Regions from separate parts of the Homo sapiens genome. Here region 1 is linked to region 2. The links come from fine-mapping of genetic effects on gene expression. Tissue or cell type: whole blood. Region 2 holds a variant in brackets; the other region holds the start of a gene. All regions are shown on one strand. Distances are from middle to middle.

The links. PIP is the estimated chance that this variant, and not a neighbour inherited with it, causes the effect.
Region 1: MIS12 starts here. The variant in region 2 is fine-mapped to the expression of MIS12 in whole blood (GTEx, PIP above 0.99).

Annotation. Positions count from the first base shown.
Region 1 is chr17:5,484,983-5,487,665 of GRCh38, forward strand. MIS12 (MIS12 kinetochore complex component) reads left to right here and starts at 1,584. Exons shown (of 3, transcript NM_001258217.2): 1 at 1,584-1,702. DERL2 (derlin 2) reads right to left here and starts at 1,196. Exons shown (of 7, transcript NM_016041.5): 1 at 1,087-1,196; 2 at 169-234. The coding sequence starts at 1,179. RefSeq lists enhancers at 854-1,033, 1,074-1,133, 1,754-1,853, 2,094-2,203 and silencers at 1,304-1,463, 1,413-1,580.
Region 2 is chr17:5,457,366-5,460,048 of GRCh38, forward strand. All of the region lies in intron 4 of DHX33 (DEAH-box helicase 33), which reads right to left. Among named protein-coding and RNA genes, the nearest start is that of DHX33, 10 kb to the right of the region's middle. The variant C/T (reference allele first, on the strand shown) is at 1,560.

The DNA of each region.
Region 1 (2,683 bases), 28 kb after region 2:
AAGTCCAACCAGGCTGCAGAATCACTGCTTTATATCCTGACAAGGCAACTTATAATCAAAGGTCCCCACTGGGTTCTTTTTTAGGATAGTGTATAACAGGATTTGCTACTAAACAGTAAGAAAAAGAAGAAACTGAAGCATTAATCACTATTGTGATGAACCACTTACTTGAAAGTGTTTAAAGATTAATTCAGGATTGAAGTACAACTGAAAAGGTGTGATCAATTCCAACTGCTGAAATAGAAAAAGAGCTTCTTAAAGCAAATCAAGAAACAAAATTTCATCATTTACAACAAAGAATTAGTAGGTCTAGCAATTTCCAACTCTCGGTCACTTAGACGTGATTTCCTTTAAGCCTTTCTTCTTAGGCCAGAGGAAGAGGTTGGTAAAGAATTCTCTAGGATTGGTAGAATTCTTTGTATCCTCAATACCTAACACAAAAAAGTCTGTTTTATGTTGCAATAGTTGAGGCTGACATGAAGAAATGAGGCAGACAGGTGGTGATATTTTAGACACAGGACAAATAAAAACAGCTGCTATGAATCTACCCACCACATGGGCACCACCTGAAACAGCTGTATGAAACAACAAAACTCACTTGAAATAACGGAGACTGGAGACCCTGCCACCGTTAGGGCTGGGTACCTCCAGCTAGCCCCTTATTTAGATCCAGAGACCCTTTTTATTATAAGCCATTCCCCTCTCGACAGTTTCCAGCTTGCTTTCCCCATTCCTGTTTCTTCACTAAACGGACCTTCCTCTCACTAGTCACCATGGTACCACCTGGCCATTGGCAGAGCTCTCGGACACATTTCTTGGGTGGGAGGCTCCCGCAACCCTAACCCGCTATAGGTCCGGCGCTCATCTCTTAGAAACTGACCTGACCCCCCATGAAGCAGCACTCCCTTCTCGCGTCACTGGATAAGCATTCTTGGCGCCAACTCGAACCCCAGAGTAATCCCTGTACGCCTCCACCCATCCCCGGGACCAGCCCCTCTGGGCCTCCCCGAGGCCCAAACCCCAGTTTCCTGAAGACCCAGTCATATCCAGCCCAGATAATGAGAAGGTGGCACTGCAGCTGCTCACCACGGCGGCGGTGGTGAGGACGCAGGCAGTGGTGTAGGCGCGGCTGACCGGTGGGATCTGCAGGTACTCCAGCCGCAAGCTCTGGTACGCCATCTTCCCCACCGTCGCCTGCCCCACCCCCCACCCACCCCATTTCCCCTTCCGCCAGCAGGCCCCGGCGGCGGGGCGGGCCCAAAGGCCCCCCGCCCACTTTAGTTTTCCCGCGACTGCCCAATCAACGCCAAGCAACCGCAATCCGTAGAGACCTAAGGAACGCACATCCGCCAATCACGAGTTGCGTCGCCACCGCCCCCCCCCAGCGCCCCATCTCCCCACCCTCTCTTCTCCACCAGCCAACGTCCGGGAAAAACGAGTAAGTACAGGTTCCTTCTGCCAATCCCCGCCGGCCACAGCTAACTTTCCCGCCCGGCCCCTTTCTGTCATAATTGAGGTGTCCACAACCAGCCAATCAGGAACGCGAGAGTATCCCGCGTTTGCTTTCGCTCGCCGAGGCGCGTATCAGTCGGAATTTTGGGGAGCCAACCGCGCCGTCTGTCCCTGGCAAGCCAGCGGCGGTTTAAAGGAGGTGGCGGGAAGCCTGTGTGTGCTTCAAATCGTCACCCTCATGGTCGCTCCGGTAAGTGCTGCGGGGCAGCATTTTCTCTGAGGAGGAGCGGGGACGGGCGAGACTGGCATAAGCGTCTTCGCGAGGGAGCAAGGCGGCCTGTGGGTCGGCCTCACCCCGGCCTCCGACCTGAAGATCCCAGCATGCAGCGCGGGCGCGGGGCCCGACGGAAGCCGGGAGCCGGCCGGAAGCAGTTCCTGCGCTCTGGCTTCTGGGTCCTGTCCTGCGCGATCGCGGGGTCTTAGACAGCTCAACTCGCCGAGATGACCTGGGCACCTCTGCGTTGAATCGGCAAATACTGATCAAGCCGCATTTATTCTGCTCTCAGGAACTCTAAGTCTAGCAGAGAAGATGAGGCGGTAGAAGTTCATCAGTCAGTGCCCGAAGAGAGGTCCTAATGGGAATTCGAAGAAAGGAGTTAATCAAGGAAGTGTATTTTTTTGTTGTTGTTTGAGATGGCGCCCACCTGTAATCCCAGCTACTTGGGAGGCTGAGCTAAGAGGATCACTTGAACTTAGGAGGCAGAGGTTGTAGCGAGCCGAGATCATACCACTGTACTCCAGCCTGGGCGAAAGAGTGACACTTTGTCTCAAACAACAACAACAACAAGAAAATTAGCCAGGCATGGTGGCCTGCACCTGTTGTCCCGGCTACTTGGGAGACTGAGGTGGGAGGATTGCTTGGGCGCGGGAGGTTGAGGCTGCAGTGATCTGTGATCGTGCCACTGCATTCCAGCCTGGGCGACAGAGCGACAACATGTCTCAAAAGAAAAAAAGAAAAACAGAAAGAAATCCTACCTTACATATACAGCCAAACAGTTATAACCACTCCATATTTAACCATTACAAACGTAAATTTTTATTTTATTTTATTTTTTGAGACAGAGTCTCGCTCTGTTGCCCAGGCTGGGGTGCAGTGGCACAATCTCGGCTCACCGCAACCTTCGCCTCTCGGGTTCCAGTGATTCTCCTGCCTCAGCCTCCCGAGTAGCTG
Region 2 (2,683 bases):
TAACCCCAGCACTTTGGGAGGCTGAGGCAGGCAAATGGGTTGAGGTCAGCAGTTTGAGACCAGCCTGTCCAACACAGTGAAATCCCATCTCTATTAAAAATACAAAAGTTAGCTAGGTGTGATCCCAGATACTCAGGAGGCTGAGGCACAAGAATCACTTGGACCTGGGAGGTAGAGGTTGCAGTGAGCCGAGCTCGTGTCACTGCACTCCAGCCTGGGCGACACAGTGAGACTCCATCTCAAAAAAAAAAAAAAAAAGTGCCTAATGGCAAAATAAATAGAAAAAAATTTTAATAATTATATGTATATTTATGTATATATGTAAAAATACGTATTTTTTAATATGTATTTTTTTTCAGCCCAGTATTAACAGAACAAATGTGCAGAGGGATACACAGACAGGATAAAATCTAAAACAGTCAAAACCTCATGAGTGGGAGAATTCATCAAAGCCAGTGGTAACCTAATGCACCAGCAGCCATCATTCATGAAAAATTCTCGTTTGCTTTCTGCAGCTGAACAAGGCAGACTTCTTCCCCAAACACTATGAAAACGACAGTAAAGGCCACTGTCTTAGAAAGAAAAGGCAATGAGAGATGAGGAGTCTCAACTCATTTTGGAAGAGAGGGGAAAGGGGCTGGATGACTTGGCTAGAGGGAGGAAACTACAAATTATGTTGTGGGAGAGTGAAAACTCAGGGATTGGTTCAAAGTCTGAGTATAGAGTAGTTAAAGCCTTCAGTTCCCTCTCCTACCCAGGACGGCCAGGAGACTGGGAAGCCATGGGTCTCACCACGGGAAAATGGTGACAAAGTGAAGAGTCAAGATGACAGCTGCACAAAGGCCCAGGAGAGCCACCTGCCCCAACTGGAACAGCAGCATAAAGGACTCTGAAAAGACAGACTGTGCTTGAACACAGAACTATACACGACTGGCATATGAGATGTTGGAATATTTGGGAGAAAATGAGCCAGAGCTACCCAGAAAGCTTGCACAACTGTGTTGTTCAAGAAACAAGGTACAGGGATGATGGTGTGCTACTAGCAATGTGTGGTCATAATATTCTTAGTATTGATACTGGACTCAGAAAACATCATAATAGGCCAGACACAGGTGTGCAAGCATGTAGTCCTAGCTACTCCCAATGCTGAGGTGGGAGGACTGATTGAGCCCGGGAGTTCACGACCAGCCTGGGCAACACAGCAAGATCCTGCCTCAAAAACAAAAACCTAAACAAAAACATGATAGAACTGTCAAGAGGTTGGAGATAAAGGGGGTTGGGGAGGGGCATTCTAAACTTTTGTCACCATGGTAAGAAATTAGCATATGATGCCTGATACCCATAACTCAAAAAATAGTGGTCAAAGCAAGGTAGTTTAGAAACATGAAAGCAATATGTAGAGATTGAAAGTAGGTGCCCTAAACAGCAGAAATCTGGGATGTTGAAGTAAAAACAACTGCTATTCTTTTATTATAAACCTTTTACTATAAACTACTTGACTTTTTAAAACTTTAAATCCCATATGCATCACTTATTTTAAAATAAAAATTGACTGGGCA[C/T]GGTTTCTCACATCTGCAATCCCAGTGCTTTGGGAGGCTGAGTCGGGAAAATCACTTGAGGTCAGGAGTTTGAGACCAGTCCGGGCAACGTAGCAAGACCCTGTCTCTACAAAACATAAAAAAAAATTAGCCAGGTGTACTGGTGTGTGCCTGTAGTTCCAGCTACTCAGGAGGCAAAGGTAGGAGGACGGCTTGAGCCCAGGAGATCGAGGCTGTAGTAGCTGTGATTATGCCACTGCACTCCAGCCTGGGTGACAGAATGAGACCCCGTCTCTAAATAAGTAAATTAATTAAATAAAAAGTTATTTTAAAAGTTTGCCTCTGGATTTTCTCAGAAAGCTAATAGGAAGGTAAAAACATTAAATTTTATACAAATTAAACAAAAGTGACTTAATGATTCAAATTTTTGAAGTAAATGTTTAATAAAATGAGAAAATATTTTTAAATATTCTCCTAATATAGTTTAAAAAAAAAAGAAACTCTAAGTTGCAACCCATTATTGGGCTAATGTCAACTTTTTCTTTTTTTGAGATAGGATCTTGCTCTGTTTCCCGGGCTGGAGTGCGGTGATCATAGTTCACTGCAGCCTTAATCTTCCAGGCTTAAGTGATCCTCCTACCTCAGCATCCCAAGTAGCTGGGACTATAGGCATGCACCACCACACCTGGCTGATTGTTTGATTTTTAGTAGAGACAAGTCTTGCTATGTTGCCCGGGCTGGTCTCAAACTCCTGAGCTCAAGCAATCCTACCCACCTCTGCTTCCCAAAGTGCTAGGATTACAGGTGTGAGCTACTGTGCCCAGCCAACATTTTCTTTAAATGAGGCACAAAATATCAGAGTACCCTACATGTAGTAAAAGACACAGTACTTCTTCTTTAAAAAATAATTTTTATAATTTTTTTTATAGAGACAGGGTTTTGCTATGTTGTCAGACTGGTCTTGAACTCCTGGACTCAAGTGATCCTCCTGCCTTAGCCTCCCAAAGCGTTGGGATTACAGGTGTGAGCCACCATGCCTGGCCAGAAGCAGTGTTTCATAGACCTATTTCAGTTATATGTATAGCGTACGGGGTTGCAAAAGAAAAAGTACCTTTTTTTTTTTTTTTTTGAGACAGACCCTCGCC